Homo sapiens: one gene and its partners. The protein of the gene in region 3 purifies or fractionates together with the protein of the main gene of each other region. This does not show direct contact. Each region holds a gene or a part of one and is shown on either strand. Other genes may lie near its edges.

Region 1 (3,500 bases), on a different chromosome or scaffold from region 3:
TTTAATGTTGACAGTAGTTAATCTTGGATGGTAGAAATAAGTGGCTTCTTCTACCTTATACTATTCTTTTCACATCTCCGCTAATGAGCCTGTATTGTTTTGATAACACAAAAAAAATTTCAGAAAAAAAATTTTTTAATAATATTTGAGTAACTTTTTTATAGGTTCAATGTATTTTGTATCCATGTTCAGTAACCATCCACTTACTATATCTTTGAAAAACTTAAAAAATCCATTAACTTGTGAAATATCTTCTAAGACAGGCATTTAGAATGCATTATTGCACTCTAACAGCTTCTTAATGAGAACATTTGGCTTTCAAGATTCTTGGTCTGCAAGGAAAAACAAATAATTGGAGCGGGGATGAAGGGTAGAAAACTTTATGGAAGGTAGAGATGTTCCTTTGTAAGATGCCTCATTTTCCACAACTCAGAATCTATACTTGAAGACCACCTTATTGGAAGACTAGCTTCTCCAGTCAAGTTTCAGATGTGTAAAACATCTAGACTTGAACCACAGCCCATTTTCTTTAAAAATGGTTTTTGCCATTCTTACCTCCAAAGAAATTAAATAATAAGCAATACAATCAAATACAAAATTATTTCTGCTTTTTTTTTTTTTTTTTTTTTGAGACGGATTTTCACTCTGTTGCCCAGGCTGGAGTGCAGTCGCTCAATTTCGGCTCAACGCAACCTCCGCCTCCCAGGTTCAAGCAATTCTCCTGCCTCAGCCTCCTGAGTAACGCCAGGCTAATTTTTGTATTTTTAGTACAGATGGGGTTTCATCATGTTGGTCAGGCTGGTCTCAAACTCCTGACCTCATGATCCGGCCGCCTTGGCCTCCCAAAGTGCTGGGATTACAGGCGTAAGCCATTGCGCCTGGCCCTCCGCTTTTTTTTTTTTTTTTTTTTTTTTTTTTTGAGACGGAGTCTCGCTCTGTTGCCCAGGCTGGAGTGCAGTGGCGCAATCTTGGCTCACTGCAAGCTCTGCCTCCAAGGTTCACGCCATTCTCCTACCTCAGCCTCCCGAGTAGCTGGGACTACAGGTGCCCACCACCACACCCAGCTAATTATTTGTATTTTTAGTAGAGACGGGGTTTCACCGCATTAGCCAGGATGGTCTTGATCTCCCTCTGCTTTTTAAAGATACTAAAAGTAGTTCAACAACTCAGTAATGCCTGTTAGCCAGTTATTTAAATATCCAAACATAATATTCCACTCTTACTTTCCACAGATTATCATTCCTTCTCCTAATTCATGTTCATAGATAAATATATAGTCCTCAAATGTTAGTCAGTATGCTTAAGATGCCTGGATTTAAAATGCTCTCTCTAGAGAGACACACAGTACTCATTACGTCTGTATTTCTTATTCTATAAAGCAAACATTTCATATACGATACAAAAACTGCAGCTGATTTTTTAAATTAAATTAAATACAAAAAAGATGTTTAATGGATTAAGATCTCCCAATCCACAGTTCTATGGTTCTAACCTCAGCTGGATCTAAAGAGGTGGGAAAAGTAGAAAGTACACTGGCCCCAGATTCTAATTCTATCTCTGCTACGAATTAGCTTTGTTGCCTTGGAATTCCACTTAACCTCACTGGATCTGCTAGCCACATCTAAAAAATGAGGGGAAAATTAGACTACTTAATCAAGGTTTCTACAAACTCTTTAAAAAATGATTCTAGGTTCATATTTCTACAGTCTTCCCAAATATCTTCTTTTCCTAATTCTCAGCAGTAATAAACTTTCCCTTGGATTAACCTTTCAGGTATCAACAATGTGCAAAAGTGTAGACAAATTTTTATACTTCCATTTAAAAAATACATAATGTCCATAAGATTTATCCTATATTATTTTGGCAAATCCTATTAGATATTTTTTAATAACTATAACATATCTAAAAGCCCCAGTTAAAAATAAAGATTACTCAATATACATTACACATATAGGCACATGACTTATTGTGCAATAACTGCCAGAACAGTTAGCAATGGAAAAAATACTTCATTCCTTGACACTAATCAGAAAAGACAAGACTAGGGTGTTTCTTTTTTATAATGTTCAAAACAAAAGAGAACACTACATATATCAAGTGTCTCTACATAAAACTGGATTAAATTAGGTATCATTTCAGTTTTAAAATCCTAAGGAAAGGCATTCTAAGTCTGAGCATTCTGTAACTAAGCTGCATTATCTTTTAGACTCAAACCAAACCCTACATATAATAGTAATTCAGTCTCATGAACCTTTTGAGTAAGTTAAATGACATCTATTAAATCTTCCTTAATGTTTAAGGCACATGTAGTGACATTTTAATGTTTACAAAATGTTGATTTTTACAAAAAGAAAATTGGCTTCAGCTGAAGCTTTTCATACCTGAGAAGTCGCTTCTTAAATGTGAATAAGTAAATGGTCACCTTTCTAGAGTGACACATAGTACTCAATACATCTGTATTTCTGATTCTATAAAGCAACTATTTTATATACAATACAAAAAGTGCAGCTGATTTTTTAAAAGGCTAAACTTACTATTTTGGACACATTGTTTCTACCTAAAAATCTCTAAAATCATCTTTAATCACTAACTTGGATTTTAATCACTACATCCTCAACATATTCTATAAGAATCAGGGGTTAGGTTAGAGCCTTGAGGTTAAAAAAAAAAAAAAGTATGAAATTCACTGAGGGGGTCCCTTTCAGCATCTTAAAAGCCACAGCCAATTACAGCCCAGATGTCTTTTTTCTTTTTTAAATTAATATTACTTTTAATTGACAAATCATAATTGTATACATTTATGGAGTACAATGAGATGTTCTGATACATGTTTACAGTGTGGAATGACTAATTCAAGCCAATTACACATCCATCACCTTATCTTTGTGACTTTTTTTTTCTTAACTGAAGCTACCCACACCATTACAATTTTAAAAAGAATAGTCTAATGATAACAGTGGGCTGGGCACAGTGGCTCACGCCTGTAATCCCAGCATTTTGGGAGACCAAGGCAGGCATATTACTTGAGACCAGGAGTTCGAGAACAGCCTGCCCAACATGGTGAAACCCCGTCTCTACTAAAAATACAAAAATTAGCTGGGCATGGTGGCAGTCGCCTGTAGTCCCAGCTACTCGGGAGGCTGAGGCACGAGAATAGCTTGAACCCAGGAGGCAGAGGTTGCAGTGAGCCAAGATCATGCCACTGCACTCCAGCCTGGGCAACACAGCGGGACTCCGTCTCAAAAAAAAAAAAAAGATAATGGTGGAGCCACTGGTTCACTTTGACTTCAACAGCTTTGCAGAAGTTTTGTTGTTGTTAAATATAATAATCTAATGGTGGGGGCGGGGCAGGGGGGAACACATGATGCGATTACTTTCCCCAATCCATAAATCCACTACTGCAGCCCACATCTGGATAGATACAGTGATTCAAAGTAGAAAATGATACCAGTTGAGTCCCTTCTCAGTATTTTTCAAGCCATCGTTCCTGCATTAAACAG
Region 2 (3,500 bases), on a different chromosome or scaffold from region 3:
CTCAAAGGGTTCCGTTATATCATTCAGTTGACATGACATTCTGGAATTGTCAGGCGTATGGAAATGCAGGAGTCCAGGGTGACTGCGGTTACAGAGTGGGTGGTGAGGGAGGAGGCACTGGAGATGCTGGGTACTTTCCGCATGAATGTCTGAATCCTGGCCAGGGCGTCGCACCACAGTGCTGAGGAGGTCACCATCGGGGGACCGGGGTAAAGGGTACCTAAAGGCTTCTTACAACTGCATGTGAATCTACAATGATCTCAACATAAGCAGTTTAATGTAGAGAGGTGAGAGGTCGGCCAGGTGCGGCAGCTCACACCTGTAATCCCACCACTTTGGGAGGCTGAGGCAGGTGGATCACCTGAGGTTGGAAGTTCAAGACCAACCTGACCAACATAAGAGAAATTCCGTCTGTACTAAAAATACAAAATTAGCCGGGCGAGGTGGTGCATGCCTATAATCCCAGCTACTCAGGAGGCTGAGGCAGGAGAACCGCTTGAACCTGGGAGATGGAGGTTGCAGTGAGCCGAGATTGTGCCACTGCACTCCAGCCTGGGCAACAAGAGCAAGACTCCATTTCAAAAAAAAAAAAAAAAAAAAAAAAAGGCAAGAGGACTGGGAAAGGTAATTTCCTGACCGTGCAGAGGCAGGAGGTAGGAGGGCTGCATCAGAAGCGTGTCTGGCACAGGTGTCAGCTGCCACTGACAAAACCTGCAGAACAGATGATTCAACAAAGCACACGCCAAATTTTGAAGCTGAAACACCAGCAAAAAATTCACTCTTTTCACAAGCAGGTATGGAAAGCCCTTATTTATGCTCTGGAAATTCTGCCATCTTAACTAGGGCAAGACGAGGGGGCCTCTGGGCAAAGCTGCACCTGTTTCGTTGCTAGCTTTGTGATCTGCTCTCCAAAGGACTCGAAAAGGAGCCTTTGCTTGCAATACAAAGTGGGGACCCGGGTGCACTCTACCTCTCCTCCACCTTCCCGGGAGTCAGCACCACATCATGTCTCTCCTAACAACACAGGCTTCCCACACATTGTAGTTTGTGAAGTGTGGTTTCTACCTCATGGCCTGCTGTTTTGGCAAAGCTTTCATTTTATTGGAATTTATGATTAAATTTAATTTAGCTGCAAAGACTTTCTTTAAAAAGGTTTTGGTTGGCCGGGCATGCTGGCTCACACCTGTAATCCCAGCACTTTGGGAGGCCAAGGCAGGCGGATCACCTAAGGTCAGGAGTTTGGGACTACCCTGGCCAATGTGGCGAAACCTAGTCTCTACTAAAAATACAAAAGTTAGCCGGATATGGTAGCAAGCACCTGTAATCCCAGCCACTCGGGAGGTTGAGGCCGGAGAATCACGTGAACCTGGGAGGTGGAGGTTGCAGTGAGCCAAGATCGCGCCACTGCACTCCAGCCTGCACTCTAGAAAGAGCGAGACTCCGTCTCAAAAAAAAAAAATTAAAAAAAAAAAAATCACAAAATCAGCTGGGCATGGTGGCACACACCTATAGTCCCAACTACTCAGGAGGCCGAGACAGGAGACCAAGGCTGAGCCCTGGACACTGAGGCTGAGCCCAGGAGATCGAGGTTGCAGTGAGCTATGATGGCACCACTGCACTCCAGCCTGCATGAAAGAGCAAGACCCTATCTCAAAAAACAAAATAAACATGCAACTTTGGTCGTGCTGACTATGCAGCCAGACAGAAACCAAAGGCTCGTACCTCTTCTAAGGGATACTTCCACTCAACAAGGACTCTTCTGCATTACCTTTAATTGATGCAAATAAAACAAAGGCTATAAAATAATAGACAAATTTTAGGAAGGTTTTCTGCTGTCTTTACAATTGTATGCTACAGCTACTTAAATACATTTTTTTTTAAAAATCACTCACAGGTGTGGTGGCTCATGCCTGTGAGCACTTTGGGAGGCCGAGGTGGGTGAATCACCTGATATCACGAGTTCGAGACTAGCCTGGCCAACATGGTAAAACCCCCGCTCTACTAAAAATACAAAAATTAGCCAGGCGTGGTGGTGCACACCTGTAGTCCCAGCTACTCAGGAGAATCACTTGAACCTGAAAGGCAGAGGCTGCAGTGAGCAGAAATCGCACCACTGCATTCCAGCCTGGTCGACAGAGCACAACTCTGTCTCAAAAAAAAAAAAAAAAATCACTTTGTAAATATTATTACTTATCCCAAATGAAGCAGTACATGCACAATTTCAAAAACAGCCCTAAGAGTACAGAACATCACAACTAAGTTTTAATCATGTGCAGAGAAGGCCGTGGACCATGGGGAGAGGCCCGGGCGCATCTCAGCTCACACTCCGGGGTAGGTGATTAGTGCAAGGGCTAAGGGAGCAGCCAGTTTGGCTCTGGGTTCATTTACATGCGGAGGTTGGAGTAGCAGCTGCTGACACTGACACCTGGTGCTGTGCGAAGCTGGGGGACAGAAATATTGAGTCATCTGGCCAAAACAAAGGACAAACTAGCACAAGAGACTGCAGCCAATCCAGGCTCATGCTGCACCTTTGCCCAGGCTCTGTCCTGGGCATGTGAAAGAGCCCTGCTTTGGTCCTGATGGAGCACAGCCTTCTGGCCAGGAGACACGCCCCCGCCGTGTGGGTGCAGGCCTCTCACCGTCGCAGGCAGTCCGTGAGCGTGGTGGTTCCCGACACGTGGCTTTCCCCGTTTACCACGTTGCCCTCGCTCCCTGGGCTCAGGGGCCAGAATGGGGTGGAAGAGCCGGGGAGATCCAAGCTGATGTCCCAGAAGGGGTCGATGGTGGTGGAGACTCCACTGGAAGCAGAGGGAAAACAATGGCTGTGAGGACTGACACCCACCCAGCTCCAGAGGCAACCCGGGGTGGAAGCCGTTCCCACATCCCTTCCCCGCTGTGCCCTTTGTCACAGTGACACTCAGGTGGGATGGGGCAGGAGCAAGAGCAGCAGTGCTCACACCCAACGTGTCCTGGCTCCCAAGGTGGCCCTGGGGAGGGGTGTGTGTGAACTCGGAAGGCGAGGGGCGCTCCTCAAGCAAGGACTTCCCAGTCTGGAGACCATCACAGTCACTGAGGGACTTGGGAGGAGGATAAACTCATGGGCCCTGTCAGAGGCTCTGAATCCACAGGTCTATCTCAGCTGCATCTAGAACTTGGGGCCTGTGACCCTAGGCAACACTGGAGACCCCTGCACATTTCACAGAGCGTGCCCAGGCCAGGCCCGGTGGCCTGCACTGGACAGTCAATGCTGCATTTCACAAGGCCAGTTCCTTGCTAGAAATTTATTTAACAATATAAAAAATGAAAACTTGCAGACTGGGAAATTTACTCTCGATATTTATACAGGATTTAAATCTTGAGACAATCTCCTACTAATGGAATTCAGTAGTTAAGGGACAGCGAGGAGGTCCAAATTGCTCAGAGCAAACTCGGTTTCTAATACTCAGAGACAAGGCCCCAAACGGTCTATGCTCCTTATAGAAAATGGCCCCCGTGACACA
Region 3 (3,500 bases):
GGTGGGCTGATCGCCTGAGGTCAGGAGTTCAAGACCAGCCTGGCCAACATGGTAAAACCCTGTCTCTACTAAAAATACAAAACAATTAGCTGGGCATGGGGGCAGGTGTCTGTAATCTCAGGTACTTGGGATGCTGAGGCAGGAGAATAGCTTGAACCCAGGAGGTGGAGGTTGCAGTGAGCCAAGACCACACCATTGCACTCCAGCCTGGGCAACAAGAATGAAACACTGTCTGGAAAAAAAAAATTAACTAGTAAAAGAAGGCATCTTCCATTCAGAATTCACTATTTATATTTAAGAAGCTCAGCAAGCTTACTAGGCTGAAATATCTCCCCCCTCAAAAATTGATAATAAAACTTTTACATTAATTGCTTGAAAGATGAGAATAGGGTAAGACAAGAGACCATTTTGAAGGCTACTAAGGTAGTCCAGGTGAGAGATAAAGGCCTGAACTAGGGTAGTAGCAGTAGAAACAGAAGTTACTAATGACTGAAAAAATCCAAGAATATATTTAATAAACTACAATGGGAAAGGCCAGCTGATTCACCTTAGTGCCCCAAAGAGACTCTGAAACTAGAAGTGTCAGACACTTCAGGAGACATAAGATAAAGTACAGAGAGCTAAAAACCGGAGTCTGTATAAAGACCAACTGGTACCAAGATCCCAGGAATCGATCTAAGGAATCATGAAGTCCATTTCTGCTTCTCTGACTTTATCATTGGCTGTCCCACCCTGTTTTGCCCCAGACCTACTGTCCACCAGACTTATTGCTATCTTGAACTTTATCTTCCCAATCAAACATCCTGAGTGAGAGCTCTGGTTCTAGAGTGGGTGATAATCTTACCTTGGACTAGTTATTTAAACTTTATGCACTTCAATTTTCTTTCTTTTTTTTTTTTGAGATGGAGTTTCGCTCTTGTTGCCCAGGCTGGAGTGCAATGGCGCTATCTCGGCTCACCGCAACCTCCCTCCCAGGTTAAAGTGATTCTCCTGCCTCAGCCTCCCGAGTAGCTGGGATTACAGGCATGTGCCACCACACCCGGCTAATTTTGTATTTTTAGTAGAGAAGGGGTTTCTCCACGTTGGTCAGGCTGGTCTCAAACTCCTGACATCAAGTGATCCGCCTGCCTCGGCCTCACAAAGTGCTGGGATTACAGTGTGAGCCAACCACACCTGGCCTCAATTTTCTATATATATAAAATAAGAACAATAGTCTACATAAGGATTTCATGATGTGGTTGAGAAACTTAAAAGAGAAAACACATACAATGCATGTAAAATAATGCACAGTATCTGGACACAAAAATAACTGAGTACTTACTATTATTATTCAAAGCCCCTATGATTGCTAGTACCACCTGGGCCCAAATGTCCTTCACCTGGGACTCAACAGACAAGGTTGAATGGGGAGTGAGAAGGTTTTTAACTAAAAGACTACTCATACCAAGGGGAGAAGAAAAAATGAACACATCTATCACTATTAGAGGGCAACTCCTACTGGCGGTATTTATACTCTCCTCAGCCCTTGTCTACCTTATCTTACAAATCCAGAGTTACAACACCAATTCTAATTCTTGGAGGAGACTGGGAATGAAAGCCTCAGAAAATGTTACTTAAGTCTTTTGTGTAAACAAAACCCCACAATTGTGTGAAGTTTTAATCTCTTTTTACAGGATCTATATTTAAAAACAAGGTGGGCAGAGGCTAAGATGGAACCTTTGGCTCACCATCTGTTTTTCCTTTTTTATAAGTAATAAACACACTTGGAAAACCTCAAAAGAGCTCTGTGCTACTTCAGGAAGAGAAAATTTGTGTGATTACAATGTTTCTGCAAGTCAGAGGAAAAAGCATAACCTAGATGGAAACTAGGAGAGTATGTGAAAGAATCTGAGGGAAAAAAGTCATCAAGGAGGTAGGGAGAAATAGAGCAAAAACTCAGCCCTGGCAAGAGGCTCACCTTCATGGTGCCTCACTTTGCAGGTGATGAGACAATAGCATACGTCCATTCGAACTTTGAATTTTCTGTTAACAGCCTTTTGTTCATTTTGCCATTGTGCTGTTCACCCTTTTCTAATTTATAAGGGCTCTTTGTAAATTAAGAAATTAGGGTTGGCCATGGTGACTCACGCCTGTAATCCCAGCACTCTGGGAGGCTGAGGCAGGATTACTTGAGGCCAGGAGTTCAAGGCCAGACTGGACAACATGGTGAGACACATCTCTAAAGAGAAAAAAAAAAAAATGGTTGGGCACAGTGGCTCACGCCTGTAATCTTAATAGTTTGGAAGGCTGAGGCGGGCAGGTCACTTGAGGTCAGGAGTTCAAGAACAGCCTGGCCAACATGCTGAAACCCTATCTCTACTAAAAATACAAAAATTAGCCGGAAACTGCATGAACCCAGGAGGCAGAGGTTGCAGTGAGCCAAGATCGTGCCACTGCACTCCAGCCTGGGCGACTAAATGAGATTCCGTCTCAAAAAAAAAAAAAAAAAAAAGAAAAAAAGAAAAAAAATTAGGTGGGCATGGTAGCACACACCTGTGGTCCCAGCTACTCAGGAGGCTGAGGTGGGAGGATTGCTTGAGCTCGGGAGGTCGAGGCTATTCGGAGCCATGATTGCACCACCACACTCCAGCCTGGGTGACAGAATGATAGTCTATCTCAAAAAAAAGAAAAAAAGGAAATTAGCCCTTAGACATATAATCTGGCAAACAGTTCCCTTAGTTTTTAGTGTGTTTTGATTTAGTTTATGGTGAGGTTTTTTTTTTTGGTGTGTGTCTGTTTTTTTAAGCTTTTTTTTATTTTACAGAATCAAATATATTAATCCTTATTTTACAGTTTCTAGGTTTGATGTTTGGAGAAACCAACTTTATATAAAAAAAATCCTGCTTCAGGACCCTGGCATTCCTCCCATGACTTGGAACAGGAGATAATCTCAGCTTATACTAAGCAAAGAAAAAAATTGGGAAAAGAATTCCCTACCAAAAAGAGTTAAGAAGGAAAGGAGATGTGTTTCCAGCATCTTAAATTAGTGCATTCATTTTTCTACTAAAATGCTATACAATGACTAGATATTGCAATACTCTATCTTCTCTATCACAATGTATAGTATAGGTTACATGTAAGTTTTTTGTATGTATGTTGGCCTCAGAACCTATAACATTCTTTCTAAAATAAAAAAAAAGTATAACCAAGTAGGGATTCCCTCTATTACTAAAGAAATATCTTTGTAAGCACTAAAATATATATGTTATATACCTTCTGGCTTAACTTCATAAACACCTAATTACATGGGTCACAGCCCTCAAATAAACCTATAAATAGCACTTATTACAGCTAAAATAAGATTTTTAAAAACTATTAAAAATCAAATATAGTCAAAAAGAAGCAAAACAAAAATGTATTCTAAGTCATACATTTTGATAAATTTACCTGGTATAATTTGTAATTTGAGCCCAGGAGTTTGAGACTAGCTGGGGCACTATAGTGAGACCCCGTCTCCATAA
Region 4 (3,500 bases), 8.6 Mb from region 3:
GCAAAGTCCAAAGGGTGCTAAACACTCTACAATGCACAGAATAAGTCCGCGCGGCAAAGAATTAAAAGCCCAAAATGTCAGCAGTGCCACCATTGATAAATCCTATCTGATACCAGATCTCTGATGAGAGTTGAGGGACTGGGCAGGAGGAGCTCTTGAGAACAACCCCATCGAGAGCTGAACATCTGCAAACAGGGCAGATCCAAGGCCATTGGAGATGCCCTGGGGCATCTGTTCCCAGCTTGGTGACAGACTTGGCTGGCTGGTTTCAAAGTCACACAGAGATTTATTTGTTAAACAGCATTAAGTAAAAGTTTCCTGTATGCCTTCGGTATAACAGAAAACAAGGAGACAAGATGTGGTTCCAGCCATCAAAGATATTACAGCCAAGGAAGGATGGGAGACATGAACACAAACTCCTGCAACATGACAAGGGCCACAGAGGGTAGAAATAAAATGACGTAGGGGAGAAGAGTAATGACTTTTGTTGGAGTGACCCAAATATGTTTAATGTATGAGGTATCATTTGAACTGGGCTTTGACACTGGCTTTTAGTAAGCAGAGGGGGAAATGCAGGATATGCTAGGTGGGGAGTAAGATGTGAAAACAAGTAAAAAGGCAGGAAATAATCATCATCATAATAATAATATTAACTCCCACCTACTAAGTCCCCTCTATATGGTAGGTATAGTGCCAAGTACTTTATCATGATAATTGTATCCTAAACTCAAAACTGATATATGCAAATCAGTTGAAGCCTAGCACAACCCAAAGTGACTTGAATTTCCATCTTACCCATTTCAAAATGATAGTAAAACGGGGGGAGTGTTACCTGTGGTGAGTTGCATAAATACCGAAGCAGTTCACCGATATACTGAATGACAGTGACGTTGTATTTTCTGCAGTCATCCCAAAACTGGCTGGCTGAAAATTTAGTCCGCAAGGCAAGAGTAGCACCTACAGAGAAAGCACAGAAAGTGTCAAGAAAGAAATGGTGGAAAAAATTCTCCCAGTTATGTTTAATTTGTCAACTTTGAACGGTAGAAATTTAAAAATAAATTATATTTGCAAACAAGTATTGAGTACCTTATATTCAAATGCAAAAAATTAGTAAGACATGGTTTTGTTCGATAGGGGCTTCCAATCTATGGAGGAGAAGACTCATACAAAGGTCATTTTAATAAAAGTTAGCTTGCAGTAAGAGATTCAAATGAAGTCCTAAGAGGGAGGGAGGGGAGAGGGAAAGAGATTTCATGCAATATATATATATATTATATTATATATATACTAAATATATGTATAAATAGAGTGAGACTCTGTCTCAAGTATATATATATACACACATACATATATATACACACACATACATATATATTATATATATACACACACACATACATATATATGTATTTTATATATATATATTTGAGACAGAGTCTTGCTCTATTTTTTTTTCTTTTTTTGAGACAGAGTCTCGCTCTGTCACCCAGGCTGGAGTGCAGTGGTGCCATCTCGACTCACTGCAACACCCGCCCCCCAGGTTCAAGTGATTCTCCTGCCTCAGCCTCCTGAGTAGCTGGGATTACAGGCGCGTGCCACCACACCTGGCAAATTTTTTGTATTTTTAGTAGAGAAGGGGTTTCACTGTGTTAGCCAGGATGGTCTCAATCTCCTGACCTCGTGATCTGTACCCCTTGGCCTCCCAAAGTGCTGAGATTACAGGCGTGAGCCACCGTACCTGGCCCGGGTCTCACTCTATTGCCCAGGCTGGAGTTCAGTGGTGAAATCTTGGCTCACTGCAACCTCTGCCTTGTGGGTTCTCGTGCCTCAGCCTCTAAGTAGCTGGGATTACAGGTGGACACCATCATGCCTGGCTAATTTTTGTATTTTTTAAGAAGGGATGGGGTTTTGCCACGTTGACCAGGCTAGTCTCAAACTCCTGACCTCAAGTGATTCGCCCACCTCAACCTCCCAAAGTGCTGGGATTACAGGCATAAGCCACTGTGCCTGGCCCATTCATGCAATATTTTAAATAACTTTGTGCATAAAACAAAGTTTGTGTTAAGTACTTATGTGTAGTATTTTCCACTTGTGGTGTCCTGGTGCTTAAAAAGTTACAGATTTTGGAGCATTTTGGATTTCAAATTTTTGGATTGTGTGTGTGTGTGTGTATGTGTGTGTGTTTGAGCTGCTATAACAAAATAGTACAGATGGGTGGCTTAAACAACATTTATCTCTTGCAGTTCTGGAGGCTGGGAAGTCCCGATCAAGGTGTCTGGTGTCTGGTGAGGGCATTTTTCCTGGTTTGGGGATGGTCATCATCTCCCTGTGTCCTTACATGGAACAGAACAGAGTCAGGAAAGAAGCTGGCTGTCTCCTGTTCTGATAAGGGCACTACCTTTCATGAAGGCACTACTCTCATGACCCAATTACTTCCCAAAGGCCCTACCTGCTAATACCATCATATTGGGGGTTAGGATTTCAACATATACATTTTTGGGGGACACAAATATCCATCCATAACATGCATGCATATACACACACGCATATATGTGTGTGTATATACATATGTGTATATATTTTTATATATACATATATGATTATTTAAAATGAAATGCCACATGAGAGAAAAAGTTGTTTATTTAGCTCAGTCAGAAAGTTACATATAGCTTCCTGGAAGAGTTGGCTATTGAACTTTGCGGTAATGTATACAAGTGACATGAATCCTCCTGGAAGGAGAGAGGATGGCAACTCCAATTTGAATAGTAAAGTCTGAGAAGGAAACAGAAGAGATGGCAAGCCAAGCCAAGCCAAGTATTCTGATGGAGTTGCCATCTTCTCTCCTTCTAGTAGAGCTGAAAAGCTGTGGAAATGGGAGATTACAGAAGAGTGCACACAACTGCAGAAGTTTAAAGCTGATGGAGATTAACATGCAAGTTTCTAAAGATGGAAATGACATGACATAGAATCTAAGACTCAAGTGTCATAACCTAAAATTTTTTTTTTTACAGTCAAGGTCTCACTCTGTCACCCAGGCTGGAGTGCAGTGGTGCAATCACAGCTCACTGCAATCTTGAACTCTTGGACTCAAGCAATTCTTCTACTTCAGCCTCCTGGGTAGCTGGGACTACAGACTTGAGCCACCATGCCTGGCTATATATATATATATATATATTTTTTTTAGAGATGAGGTTTGCTATGTTGCCCAGGCTGGTCTTGAACTCCTGGCCTCAAGCAATCCTCCTGCCTTGGCCTCCCAAAGTGCTGGGAATACAGGTGTGAGCCATTGCACCCAGCCCTAAAATATTTTAAAGGAGTTTGTCTCTTGATATACTGAACAATTATAGCATTACATTATTAGATAGGCAGGCATGAAAAACAGATTATTTTAGATGCTTGCTTGTAATATGTGATTCAAATTGCCTTATTGTTAATGCAAAATTGAAAACTGTTCCTAGCAGACAGCAACGTAGCCAAATTTTGTATTACTGTTCCTTCTG

Evidence for each region. Proteins that work in one complex are often made in the same cells at the same time.
Region 1: the proteins of MINDY2 (region 3) and ARL8B purify together in Homo sapiens (affinity purification with mass spectrometry; 2 studies listed by BioGRID and IntAct, with this or other methods). This does not show direct contact.
Region 2: the proteins of MINDY2 (region 3) and USP22 purify together in Homo sapiens (affinity purification with mass spectrometry; 3 studies listed by BioGRID and IntAct, with this or other methods). This does not show direct contact.
Region 4: the proteins of MINDY2 (region 3) and SLC27A2 purify together in Homo sapiens (affinity purification with mass spectrometry; 3 studies listed by BioGRID and IntAct, with this or other methods). This does not show direct contact.

Annotation. Positions count from the first base shown.
Region 1 is NC_000003.12:5,125,292-5,128,791, reverse strand, and holds part of ARL8B (ADP-ribosylation factor-like protein 8B), read right to left. Parts: intron 333-3,500; exon of another isoform or gene 1-332. UniProt on the Homo sapiens protein: Small GTPase which cycles between active GTP-bound and inactive GDP-bound states.
Region 2 is NC_000017.11:21,008,512-21,012,011, forward strand, and holds part of USP22 (ubiquitin carboxyl-terminal hydrolase 22), read right to left. Parts: intron 2,799-3,500; coding exon 2,640-2,798; intron 1-2,639. UniProt on the Homo sapiens protein: Deubiquitinase that plays a role in several cellular processes including transcriptional regulation, cell cycle progression or innate immunity.
Region 3 is NC_000015.10:58,777,802-58,781,301, reverse strand, and holds part of MINDY2 (ubiquitin carboxyl-terminal hydrolase MINDY-2), read right to left. Parts: intron 1-3,500. UniProt on the Homo sapiens protein: Hydrolase that can remove 'Lys-48'-linked conjugated ubiquitin from proteins. Binds to polyubiquitin chains of different linkage types, including 'Lys-6', 'Lys-11', 'Lys-29', 'Lys-33', 'Lys-48' and 'Lys-63'.
Region 4 is NC_000015.10:50,202,696-50,206,195, reverse strand, and holds part of SLC27A2 (long-chain fatty acid transport protein 2), read right to left. Parts: intron 958-3,500; coding exon 833-957; intron 1-832. UniProt on the Homo sapiens protein: Mediates the import of long-chain fatty acids (LCFA) into the cell by facilitating their transport across cell membranes, playing an important role in hepatic fatty acid uptake.